4 linked regions of the Homo sapiens genome follow. The protein of the gene in region 1 purifies or fractionates together with the protein of each later gene. This does not show direct contact. Each region holds a gene or a part of one and is shown in the gene's direction. Other genes may lie near its edges.

Region 1 (3,500 bases):
TGGATGGAAACCTTGTAAGGATCTTGCTTCCAAACTTTTGGAGAACTAGTATATTCTCATGGCACATAAGCAATAAGCAGTAAACATACTATATTTATAGTCAAGGTAAGTGCTAACATTATGACATTCCCCAATGAAAAGATATCTCAAAAATCCCCCAGTATCCCAACTTCTGCATAAATACAATAAGGATCTCACCTACAACAGTTTTGCGATAACCAGCAAATTCTCCCTTGTCTTATGTCATTTTTGTGTGTTCTATTAAACCAAAATACTTATTACAACGGTACTTCTTAAAAAAAGAAGTAATAACTCTACACAGTTTTTTTTTTTTTTAAATAAGGTCTAGATAAGTTCAGAGTTATAGTTGCAATGATATGACAAGGGTTTCCATGTTAGCTAGTAGCATGGCTAAAAAAGAGTACATTTATATGAGAGGAATGTGTGTCTTTTCTAAATAAAATTTAAGACATATTACTGTTGAATCATGAAATGCCTGAAGCTATATTGTTTGCCTCTTATAGAATGCTTACCTGTGGTTCAGTCAGCATTATTTCATACAATAAAGCAAACAGATATTTTTAATGTCTTTAAGTAATCTTGTTGATTTTTTTTATTTTCCTGTCTGGATGTAGCTGAAAGTACCCATGGCAGACAAGCCTGGTAACACAGTGAATTTCCGGAAGCTGCTACTGAACCGTTGCCAGAAGGAGTTTGAAAAAGATAAAGCAGATGATGATGTCTTTGAGAAGAAGCAGAAAGAACTTGAGGCTGCCAGTGCTGTAAGTATTTTCATAGAAAGACAGTGCTTGTACACTTTGAGCACTGTAAAGTAGAAATTTCAGGAAGCTAGATACAGCATCTCCCTGCTACCTTAAGAGGGACCTATGGCCTTTTTTTTTCCATGTAGAAACAACATATTAATGTTTAGGGGAATGCTTTGTTCCTTTTAGTGCCTAATATAGGGGACAGCTAAATTTTCCATGCCAGCCATTCAATCTAAGCCTGAGTCAGGTCACTGAGTTCCAAAAATCTGAAATGGATGGGTATAGTTCAGTTTTCTGAGCAGTAGATTCTACACTTGCTATCAGATTCTCACGGGGATTCTGACCCCATGAATCTCAGTGTTTATTGTGCAGTACAACTTTCATCATCAAGATGCTATTATTCCTCCTTACACAACAGCCAGAGGAGAGGACAAGGCTTCATGATGAACTGGAAGAAGCCAAGGACAAAGCCCGGCGGAGATCCATTGGCAACATCAAGTTTATTGGAGAACTCTTTAAACTCAAAATGCTGACTGAAGCCATCATGCATGACTGTGTGGTGAAGCTGCTAAAGAACCATGATGAAGAATCCCTGGAGTGCCTGTGTCGCCTGCTCACCACCATTGGCAAAGACTTGGACTTTGAAAAAGCAAAGGTAAAAATCCAAAAGCTCAGAAACCTTCGCAAAGGCTCCTTGTCAGTTGCAAAAGAACTTAGACTGTCAACAGAATAGTTCTATCTTTTCCCAAAGGTCTGGGCTGTTTATTTTTCTTCTTTTGCCCGTCTCATTGTCAGTGTTCAACCATCGTGCTCCTTACATTTCCATCAGAGTCAGAGATGAGGAGGGTCCCAAATTGTGTAAAAGCCAGTTTGTAGATTCTTCAGATTATTTGTCCCATATTCTTTTTTCTTCTTCTGTAACCATTTCCCAATTTGGGAACAGAAATATGCAAAGAAAAACTATGGCCTAAGGGTAGTGCAGAAATGAAGACCCAGTAGTGCTTCTAGAGTTTATACTCTAATTGATGACACAGCCATCTAACCATAATATAAGAAATCATTAAAAATACTGTAATAATGTATGCTATTTAAGGGGTATAGAAATTAGAAATGCTTCAAAGAAATAATGTCAGAAACGCTCCATAACATCTGATTCAGCTAGGATTATGCTTAGCTGTGACAGAAAACCCAGTGGTTTATACAAGATTGAGGTTTACTTCTTATTTATGTAAACAAAGCTCTGAGGTAAGTCCTTTCAGCTTAACATTCTGTGACTCCTAAAGTTTAACCCTTGTCCTAATTATTCTCACCAGAGAAGGTAGGAAAAGGGGCAAAAGACACAGCCACCTCTCTCTCTCTCTCTTTTTTTTTTTTAAGTAACAGGGTCAGCCGGGCACGGTGGCTCATGCTTGTAATCCCAGCACTTTGGGAGGCTGAGGCGGGCAGATCACCTGAGGTCAGGAGTTCGTGACCAGCCTGACCAACATGGAGAAATCCCGTCTCTACTAAAAATACAGAATTAGCCAGGCATGGTGGCGCATGCCTGTAATCCCAGCTACTTGGGAGGCTGAGGCAGGAGAATTGCTTGAACCCGGGAGGCAGAGGTTGCAGTGAGCCAAGATTGCGCCATCGCACTCCAGGCTGGGCAACAAGAGTGAAACTCCATCTGAAAAAAAAAAAAAAAGGAAAAAAAAAAAAAAGGTAACAGGGTCTTGCCCTGTCACCCAATTTTTTTTTTTTTTTTTTTTTTTTACTTTTTGTAGAGATGATGGGTCTCACTTAGTTGCCTAGGCTGGTCTTAAACTCCTGGCTTCAAGCAGTCCTTTTGCCTTGGCCTCCCTAATTGCTAGGATTACAGGTATCAGTCACTATGCCTGGCCCCTCTGGTCTCTTTAGGAAGGCCCTAGGAAGCTATAGCATAACATTTCCATTTATATTATTGCCTATCATTAATCACGTGACCAAAGCCAGCTGCCAGGAGCCTAGAAAAATGTAGTCTTTATTTTAGGTGGTCATATGAACAACTAAAAATTCTACCATATGGCCGGGCACAGTGGCTCACACCTATAATCCTAATACTTTGGGAGGCTGAGGCAGAAGGATTGTTTGAGCTCAGCAGTTTGAGACCAGCCTGGGTAACATAGTGAGATTTCCTATGTCCAAAAAATCATACACACAGAAAAATTTAGCTGGGTGTAGTGGCATATGCCTGTCTGTGGTCCCAGCTACTTGGGAAGCTGAGGCAGGAGGATCACTTAAGCCCAGGAGATTGAGGCTGCAATGAGGCATAATTGAGCCATTGCACTCCCAACTGGGTGACAGAACAAGACCCTGTCTCAAAAAAATACAAATAAAAATTCTACCACATTATATTTTGGCTATAAATTGATATTCCTAGACCATTTAGAAAACTACATGGGCTGGACGCAGTGGCTAATGCCTGAAATTCCAGCACGTTGAGAGGCCAAGGCTGGAGGATTGCTTGAGCCCAGGAGTTCAAGACCAGCCTGAGCAACATAATGAGACCCTGTCTCTACAAAAAATTAAAAGATTAGCCAGGCACGGTGGCACGTGCCTGTAGTCCCAGCTACTCGAGAGGCTGAGGTGGGATCGGTTGAGCCTGAGAGGTTGAAGCTGCAGTGAGCCGTGATTGTGCTACTGCACTCCAGCCTGGGCAACGGAGTGAAACCCCATCTCTAAAAAAATAAATAGATAACTACATAAATAAATAAC
Region 2 (3,500 bases), on another chromosome or scaffold:
TGGGTCCCATGGCAGTGACCAGTCAGGAAGTCACCCCAGAGGAGGCTGAGTTTGGGCTTTGAAGGCTGAGAGGAAGAAACAGCAGGAGCAGTGGGACAAGAAGCAAATTGTCAGGAGTTGGGGCAGGGCAGAGCTAGTCAAGCAGGCCTGGTGGACAGGTGGGGGCTCATCTAGAGGACTCAGAGCCCACCAGAGCTCCCCCAGGGTAGGCATAGGAAGGGCAGGAGAGTCTTGGGGGACTGGGGACAGCACCTGACAGGCTGGCGGTTGGGCAGCCCATAAAAGTTAATGCCACATAGCATGCAGATGAGTGGCCCCTGTTCAGGCCGGAGCAGCAGTGATGTTCAGCAACCCCTCCAGTGAATGGGGTCACAGAGTGAGGGGGCACTGAATGTGGAAGGGCACTCAGGGTCACAAAGTTCAGGGCAGAACAAACCCTCAGGTGACAGGAGGGAGCAGAAGCTGACCTGTCCAGCTATGCCACTGAGGCCTCAGAAGGGTTCAGGGAGGTTAGGTCAGGCTGGAGGCAACCTCGTCCTGCCTACACTTCCCTGAGAGTTCCCTCTCCCTAACTGATGATCTCTACTGCCTCTCAGAAACCTGGTCAGGCCCTCCACTCCCCCGGTACTTTACCTGGTCATATTCCTTTTTTTTTTTTTTTTTAGACAGAGTCTCACTCTGTCACCCAGGCTGGAGTGCAATGGCATGGTCTCAGTTCACTGCAACCTCTGCCTCCCGGGTTCAAGCAGTTCTCCTACCTCAGCCTCCCGAGTAGCTCAGACTACAGGCGTGTGCCACCACACCCGGCTAATTTTTGTATTTTTAGTAGAGACGGGGTTTCACTATGTTGGCTAGGCTGCTCTCAAACTCCTGACCTTGTGATCTGCCCGCCTCAGCCTCCCAAAGTGCTGGGATTACAAGCGTGAGCCACCGCACCTGGCTTTATCTGGTCATATCCTTTTTGGGCTTCAGTTTACCTTCCTGAAATGGGTAAAGGGAAGGTGGAGTCACTTCTTTGGTGCTTGGTCCCCTGCCTCTATTACCAAGGCACCTGAAGGAGAAGGGCCTGTAGTGATAGGGAGATGAGCACACAGCCCAGGCTTGGGTGGGCACTGGTGATTCCTGGAGTTGTTATGACAACTGGGGAGCTGATGGGGAAGTGTGGGGTCCCCGTAGAAACAGGGTCAGTTACCATGGGGTCTATGGGGACCCTAGAAGGAAATTCCCATTTTCCTTAGTGATAGTAAAAGGGATTGGTCAGCTCTTGAGCCGCTTGCTTGAACCTACTTCCATTCTGTGGAGTGTACTTTCATTTCAATAAATCTATGCTTTCCTTGCTTAAAAAAAAATAGTGTCCAGGCGCGGTGTTTCACGCCTGTAATCCCAGCACTTTGGGAGGCTGAGGCGGGCAGATCACGAGGTCAGGAGATCAAGACCATCCTGGCTAACACAGTGAAACCCCATCTCTACTAAAAAAAAAAAAAAAAAAAATTAGCCAGGCGTGATGGCGAGTGCCTGTAGTCCCAGCTACTCAGGAGGCTGAGGCAGGAGAATGGTGTGAACCTGGGAGGCGGAGCTTGCAGTGAGTTGAGATCGCGCCACTGCACTCCAGCCTGGGCCGGCGACAGAGCGAGACTCCGTCTCAAAAAAAAACAAAAAAAACAATAGTACAAGGGGATGGTCAGGCCCTGGGGCAGGGTGGGTGTCATGGAGATCAGAAGGTCCACCCTTTCAGCACCCCCTCTCCAGGTAAGTGGGAGAGACTGGCCCAGCCACCCAGGCACTCAAACCACTATCCTCAGTTGTCCCTGCCCCAGCAAAGTCCCATCTTCCTGCTTCATCCCATGGCCTAACATCCTCCAAGCCTGACCTCCAGTCCTGGTGATGTAGCCAGAAGTCACGTTTAGCTTGACATTGTCCTCCCCGTCCTGATACTGAATGGGGGGACCCCCTAGGCCTGGGATAGGCTATTCCACATAAACACCACCCTGTCCCACTTCTGCTTGTCTGTCCCTGAAGATGGAGTGCTCACTACCGCCCAGGCAGCTCTGACTGAGAGGAGTCACCCACTCTTGAGCTGTGCTCTTCTCTCCCTTCCTGCTCCTAGCTCTTCCCTGGGGTCCATTAATGCCTCTTACTGTCACTCACAGAGGGGGCTGGGGGTTGTTGCCTGGAATTCAGGGAGCTCGGGCAGGCCAGAGCCCCTGGATCTGGAACTCCACTCACCTTACCCTGACCTCGAGTTGGGTAGGTGTGGCTGGAGAACTTTTACCCAAGAAGCAAAGGGATGGTTTTAAAGAGGTTAATGTTAAGTAACAAGCTACTGAGAGTTAGAACGGGGACTGGACTCCGGAACCCATGCCCTCACCTGATTCGGTTGGTGAGAGGCACCAGACAGGAATGGGTCTTACAAAGGGTGCTGATGCCCCTGATGGGGGCATTCCAGCAGAGCAAACAAGAGCAAAGCACAGGCAGACCTGTGGGGGTAGAGACAGTGATTCACGCCCTTGGGCCCAGGCATCCAGCGGGTTTGGGGTATGGAGGCTGCAGGTGAGGTGGGCACCACCCTACAGGGCCTCAGATGTGAGCTTGTGATAGGGCATGTGACTGGCTGATCAAGCCGTGATGGTGACAGATGTCTACTCGAGGCCCATTGTGCAATGGCCTTGGGGTACGTCAGGCAGGGTCTGGGAGCAGCATGGTGTCAGGCAGCTCAATGATCCCTGTCAGCTTGGCAAACAAGGTGTACTCCCTGTACTCCCCACCAATGTCACAACCACCAGCCCTCAGCCCTCCAGGTTACTTCAGAATTCCAGAGGAGTGGCAGTTCCATGCCCACCCAGGGACTGTTTGAGCCTAAGCAGCCCTCGGGAGCCCCTCACCCCCAGCACTCTCAAGTGCCCTCACAGCTAGTTGGGCATAAGTTGGGGTCTCTGTGGTGGTGCACATGAGACCCCCTCTTCCCAGGGACACCGGCCTTCCACATTCCCACAACCTTCTCCCCTGCTGCAGGACCTGGGCATCACTTACCTATGGACCCTGGAGAGGGCTTGGCAGGTGTGGCTGCTCCCGACCTGCCTTCAGTGGGGGACAGGGTTGGGGCCCTGACCCAGTTAGGTTGGGGCAAGGGGCTGGACTGTCCCTGACCCGTGTTCCTGCTCAGAGCTGGCACAACCGACCAAGGCAGAAGCTCTGAGAGGGGCATGGGAAGCCTGAGCATCATGGCCACTCCTCCCAGGCCCTGGACCCTCACATGCAGCACTGCCACCATGCTCTCGTCCCCTGCCATTCTCTGCCCTCTGACCCTGGCTCCCTGAGGGACTCCCGTACCCCGACACATTGCAGTCTCAAGCCATGGGGCCTAGGTCAGAGTTGGCCTGAGGTCTTCCAGGGAGAAACAGTGAGACCCAGGGAGGCAGGACAGGCAGCCACCCCACCCCTGCCTAATACTGTGCTTTGGAGACCTCGTCATCCCCTTTCAGAGCCCCTGAAGGCTGTCT
Region 3 (2,699 bases), on another chromosome or scaffold:
TTGTATAAGATATTATAGAGCTTTTTATGCTTTAGAAGTTAAACAATATCTTTGGGGGGGAACTAATTTATTTTCATCACTTGAAATGTGGTAGCTCTTACAAAGTTTATTGATTTGATTTTTTTAAAAATCAAAAGCCAATTGAACAACAGGATATATAGACTGATAAATATTTAGGCTGAATAGTATTTTAACACTTGTCTTCAACTTGATTTGTCTGTTTAATTGAAAAGAATTATAAGAGTTACTGTTGCATTTTCTGACCTACTATTTTTAAAATTCCTGTTGAGTTTCTTTGTGTTTACAAGGAAAGGACTGAACTTTTTCTCATCAAAACTAGCTTTTTTCCCCACAAATAAATTATCAGGTTAAACTTTCACCAATGTCTGCTCTGTTTTTTGTTTTTGGGGGGTTTTTGTTTGTTTTTGTTTTTTAATGTTTTTGGTACACTGGGCAGACTTCAGAGCAGTTTTTTAAAAAAATAAATATTCTAATGTAGCTATCTCGCCATTCCCTTTAAATACCTGTCTTAACCTCCTGCTTTTCTTTCCTACTCCTTTCCACACATACGCACACAATCTTCTACCTTTTAAAGGATCATTAAGACTGTCACCACATTAGGAGCTCTTTCTCTCACTCTTCTGTCATTTGCTGCTATGTTGAAATTCTTATTTTGACCATCAATGCCTATGAATTCTTCTAATACGTGAAGAAAATAGTTTGAGTAGCAGCAGTGCTATAGGTGGGAAATACAGTTTAGCTGCTGAATTTCTATACCTCTCTGATTTACAGATTGCTAATTAAATGGCTATTATTAGTTTGGATTAATTAGACTTAAGAAAACAACTAACTGAGGGTTTTTTTTGTTTGTTTTTTGAGGGTTTTCTTTGCATGAGAATTGTATGTAACCAGTGATATGATTATTCCTGAATGTACAGACAGAAGTAAGCCTGGACATTGTTAAATAGTCCCTGCTTTAAGGGACTACGATAATGTGTACTATGACAAACGTGCTTTATTCTTCTAACGCAGTAAGAATTAGGTGGAATTTTTTCCTTCAACCAAGTGCAGGAAAGCCCTGTGTGTCTTGGTTTAGTTATGGTTTCATTTCTAGCCATACAATTGATGAATTGTGTACAACTTTTGTTAGTACCAAAATAATCTGTTATATGAACAGACTTCTAAAATAACGTCTGTATATTTTATATATAGATACATATATGAAAGAAGGCTTTTATTGAACAGCTTATCTTCCACTTGCAGGTTTATGGAAACAGCAGTATTTGAAAATAAATAAAAAGTGGGAGAATTCCTTGCTGTTAGAAGAATGTGGCCATTATTTTGATTTTTTGAATGAGATATATAATCAAAGTACTGCTGAACTGTGAGTGCAGTATTCTAAACATTTCAGCTAGGAATACCACTGATTTAGAAACAAAACTGTTTGTCTCTGGTTTCTGAATTTAAAATGTTGGGATTACCTGTTTAAATCTGTCTTGGGGGATGTAGAGATTAAGTCTGTACATGTGCGTGCACATATATTCATGCACCCTCTGATTTTGGTTTTCTTGTTTCTGAGTTCTTAGAAAGTACCCACATACTCTTTTTTTTTTTTTGTAGAAGTAGCTGTCATAGAGTGAAGAAAAGGATAAGACTTTAAACAGTTGATTCTTTTTGTGTTTTCTACAAACTATTTTTTGAAATTTAAATCACAAACTCATTTTCTGGTTTTTAGAAAGTAGATGATGATTTCAGAGGAGTAAGGCATGCCAAGCAGCATGCTCAGTGGGGTTTTAGGCTGTCACATGCAGCTGAGAAAAGGTATGTTCAAGTCATAAGTAGGTAATTGATAGGGTATGAACTAGTCAAAATATGAACCATTATGATTCAAGTTAGATTTTCCTCTGGAGAGACAGATCTGAATGTTCAGTTCTAGCCAAGGTAGATTTTACTTTCAACTTTTTAATCAGTATCACTTTCTGTGCTTAACTATTTGGTGTTACCTTGTCTGTTTTCATTTGTCTAAAATTCTGCAGAGATGACTAAAATTTGACATAATGGTGTAAATGGATTGTTAAGGTAACTTTCAGTTGAAGATTAAAGCAAGATGCCATTTTCCCCATGACTTTGGTTTTGTTTACATTTTTCCCTTTCAGTTAGTATACACTACACGTACTGTAATAAAATACAATAATATGACAATTGCCTGTGTGTGGATTTTATTTTATTGTTACTTAGCTATCTCAAGACCATAATCCATCGACCACTTGCCCTGGATACCAGGAGTGGATCATGGATTACGCTGTGGCCGAGTAGTTTCCTCAGTCTTAGTAGCATTGTGCTCAGTCCCTTACATCTAACCCTCAAAACCACCACACAAAGGCAAGCATTCTTATCTACACTTTGTAAGTGAGGAAAGTGCTCTTGGTCAACTTATTTATTAATCATTTCAGTGCCTCACACATGCTAAATGATAGGATTTAAATCCAAACCTAACTAAATTTCATGGTCTTTATTCATACATTTTTTGATGTAGAAAACATTTTAGAAATTGTACCTTACAAATAAATGTATATGGATTATTGATCCATAACTATGCTTTAGGAGTAGCATTTTTCAGGTGTTTGAGCTTCTGGGGTTTTTTAAAATCTGAAAAATTGGAAATAACTTAATTTTGTTTGCAGTTTGTGTGCCATCTA
Region 4 (3,500 bases), on another chromosome or scaffold:
AAAAGGACATCCCAGTCCTGGTGGCCACAGATGTTGCAGGTAGAGTATGAATTTTTCAACAACATTAAGTTCCTAGGCTATAAGGGTACTCTGTCTTACTACATAAGACCTATAATATCTGAGCAGGCTGATGGAAAGACTGTTGGCCTGGCTGGCCATCCCCTCCCAAACCCCCAAGGAAGCAGCAGTTCAGCACAGGGATCACAGTCTGGAGCTCTAGATACCACTTTTCACTTAGTATTTCTCTCTAATCAAAGAATCCCTGCAGCTAGAAGTCACTCTGGGAAAAAAGGCAGTGAATGCCCTTATTGTATGTCTGAATATAGTAGATACCTTACCCTTACATTGATCTACTATACACAGCTTAGTTGGGCAACTTAACTCAGGATGAGAACAGTTTTTGGAATATAATTTCTGGATTTGTTCTGTCAAGTTTTAATAACTACCCTTAAACACTGATATTTTTTCCTAGAAAGGAGAGAACTTCTCAGCTTCATGACACATTTTAAATATATATTCCCAGTGCAAGAGAAGAGGGCATGGCAGATTACTGATGCAAAAGATAAAAGTCCCAGTCGGGCACGGTGGCTCACACCTGTAATCCCAGCATTTTGGGAGGTGGAGGCGGGCGGATCACCTGAGGTCAGGAGATCGAGACCATCCTGGCCAACATAGTGAAACCCCGTCTCTACTAAAAATACAAAAATTAGCTGGGTGTGGTGGCGCGTGCCTATAATCCCAGCTACTTGGAAAGCTGAGGCAGGAGAATTGCTTGAACCAGGGAGTCGGAGGTTGCAGTGAGCCGAGATCATGGCACTGCACTCCCGTCTGGCAACAGAGCAAGACTCCGTCTCTAAAAAATAAAAGTCCCTTACACTAGAAGGCCTAACATCATAGAATCTGTGGTGGTGACTTAACATGCCTGTATCTCAGCTCACCAAACCCATGCGCTTTGCCTAGATAAAGGAAATGTGGCTTATTAGCACTAGCATTTCTGGTTACTTTGATCTTCTGACTACAGATGAAGAATAAAAGAATTTGGTTGCTTTTTATTTCAGCCCGTGGTCTGGACATTCCTTCAATTAAGACTGTCATTAACTATGATGTGGCACGAGACATTGATACCCACACGCATAGGATTGGCCGCACAGGAAGAGCGGGTGAGAAAGGTGTGGCCTATACCCTACTCACTCCCAAGGACAGCAATTTTGCTGGTGACCTGGTCCGGAACTTGGAAGGAGCCAATCAACACGTTTCTAAGGAACTCCTAGATCTGGCAATGCAGGTGAGGGGCTGGGCACACTTTCAATTGCTCCTGGTTATAAGACCAAGACATTTTAGCAGTCCTGGAACAGATAACATAAAAACTTGACAAGAAAGTTGGGTGGCTAGGAGGATGTGGGGCTTATGAGGTACAGATAGGAATTGTGAGATACTAAAATTCATCTAGTCTTATCTGGTCTTCTTCTTTCAACAGCATCTGTTTTGAAAAGCTATTCCTTTGTGCTAAAATCTGTCGCTGTAATTTCTACCCCATAGCACACTTAGGAGTAAATTTAATCTCAAAGATGGTTACTATTCTCCTTACTGCTCTTCCCCCACAAAATTTTTCTTCTGGGAGGCTAAAAATGTGTGATGCCTTTAAAACAATATGTGTATAGTATAGTGCCCCCCCACCTTTTTTTTTTGAGACAGAATCTCACTCTATCGCCCAGGCTGCAGTGCAATGGCACGATCTCGGCTCACTGCAACCTCTGCCTCCTGGGTTCAAGCAATTCTCCTGCCTTAGCCTCCCAAGCAGTTGTGATTACAGGCGCCCACCACCACGCCTGGCCAATTTTTGTAATTTTAGTAGAGATGGGGTTTTGCCATGTTGGTCGGGCTGGTCTCGAACTCCTGACCTCAGGTGATCCGCCCGCCTCGGCCTCAACCTCCCAAAGTGCTAGGATTACAGGCGTGAGCCACCGTGCCCAGCCTGTATGGTGCCTCTTAACTGTTCCTTGCAGAGATCTCAGACCTCTGACCACACTGATTGCCCTCTTCCAGGTGTGCTCCAATCTAAAGCTAAGTGAGGCATTCTAACAAATCAAACCTGGAGTCATCTGAATCCATGCTGTCCCCAAATTACAAATGGGTTCGGAACACTTTCTGAGAGCAGAAACTGTTAAGAGTTTGTCAAATGCCTAGGCCAGCTCACACAACTGGTACAACCCAGCTGCAATGTGGCAGTGCCCAAGTTTCTGGTCCTAGGAGTAAAGGACCTGCACTGCAGGAGAGAAGAGAATAATGTTTCCTCCCCTGCTCCTGAGCACAGAGAGCTAGTCCTAAATAAACTTTTAAAACAGGACACATTTTGACTTTGGCATTTTCTTCCATTTCTTTTTGTACCTCAGGCTTTCTGTGCTCAGGACTTTGTCCAAGCCTGCTGCCCTACCTCTCAAGCACTTTATTTTGCTGGTAATATGTGATTGTCAGATAAAACTTTAACCTTCCCAGAGACATTTGCTTTTTTTTTTTTTTTTTTTTTTTCTTTTTTCTGAGATGGAGTCACACTCTATCACCCAGGCTGGAGTGCAGTGGCGCAGTCTCAGCTCACTGCAACCTCTGCGTCTCCGGTTCAAACAGTTCTCCTGCCTCAGCCTCCCAAGCAGCTGGGATTAGAGGCATGTGCCACCATGCCTGGCTAATTTTTGTATTTTTAGTAGGGACGGGGTTTCACCATGTTGGTCAGGCTGGTCTTGACTCCTGGCCTCAAGTGATCCGCCCACCTCGGCCTCCAGAGTGCTGGGATTCATAGGCGTGAGCCACCGCCCTGCATTCTTAAGAGAATGTGAGTAAATATGTTGAGTGGCAATGGTCAAGTTCAATGAAAACTTTTACGCTCTGCGGGTAAATAAAATTTTCAGTTGTGTGGCTACCATCCTTTCTGGGAGTCTGTCCCTATAGTCAGTTCTGATAAGCCTCACTTCACATAGCATTTTTCCTTTGCTTCTGAACATACCAGTTGTTTAAGTTCCAAATGTTTACGTCCAATAATACATGGTTTGAGAAATAAAATATAAGCTCATTTTCCTCAAGGAAGTTAGAAGTAGCCAAAGTTACTCCTCTGGGTTTGAAGCTTACCTGAACAACTTCCCTTCCAGGAGAGCCTTGAGGGAGGGAGCACTGTAGGAAGCCTTAGATAAGGATCTCAGCCACTTTTCAAATTTGGTGGATTATGCTACCAAAGAGAAACCAATCTGTGGTTCCTGTGAAAATTCCTCCCTTAGCGTAGTGCTGGCTGAAAATTAAGCAAAAGTTCCCCCTTCCCACTTAATTTCCTCTTTGTCCTCGTTCTCTTCTTCTGTTCTTTTCTCCCTCCCTTGACTTAACCTTGAATTTTGTTCAATGCAGAATGCCTGGTTTCGGAAATCTCGATTCAAAGGAGGGAAAGGAAAAAAGCTGAACATTGGTGGAGGAGGCCTAGGCTACAGGGAGCGGCCTGGCCTGGGCTCTGAGAA

The links.
Region 2: the proteins of EIF4G3 (region 1) and NBEAL2 purify together in Homo sapiens (tandem affinity purification; one large-scale study listed by IntAct). This does not show direct contact.
Region 3: the proteins of EIF4G3 (region 1) and PPP1R2 fractionate together in Homo sapiens (co-fractionation; one large-scale study listed by BioGRID). This does not show direct contact.
Region 4: the proteins of EIF4G3 (region 1) and DDX42 fractionate together in Homo sapiens (co-fractionation; one large-scale study listed by BioGRID). This does not show direct contact.

The regions. Positions count from the first base shown.
Region 1 is NC_000001.11:20,862,398-20,865,897, reverse strand, and holds part of EIF4G3 (eukaryotic translation initiation factor 4 gamma 3), read left to right. Parts: intron 1-635; coding exon 636-782; intron 783-1,185; coding exon 1,186-1,422; intron 1,423-3,500. UniProt on the Homo sapiens protein: Component of the protein complex eIF4F, which is involved in the recognition of the mRNA cap, ATP-dependent unwinding of 5'-terminal secondary structure and recruitment of mRNA to the ribosome. Functional homolog of EIF4G1.
Region 2 is NC_000003.12:46,982,666-46,986,165, forward strand, and holds part of NBEAL2 (neurobeachin-like protein 2), read left to right. Parts: intron 1-3,500. UniProt on the Homo sapiens protein: Probably involved in thrombopoiesis. Plays a role in the development or secretion of alpha-granules, that contain several growth factors important for platelet biogenesis.
Region 3 is NC_000003.12:195,513,928-195,516,626, reverse strand, and holds the end of PPP1R2 (protein phosphatase inhibitor 2), read left to right. Parts: 3' UTR 1-2,199; downstream 2,200-2,699. UniProt on the Homo sapiens protein: Inhibitor of protein-phosphatase 1.
Region 4 is NC_000017.11:63,812,170-63,815,669, forward strand, and holds part of DDX42 (ATP-dependent RNA helicase DDX42), read left to right. Parts: coding exon 1-39; intron 40-1,058; coding exon 1,059-1,285; intron 1,286-3,393; coding exon 3,394-3,500. UniProt on the Homo sapiens protein: ATP-dependent RNA helicase that binds to partially double-stranded RNAs (dsRNAs) in order to unwind RNA secondary structures. Unwinding is promoted in the presence of single-strand binding proteins.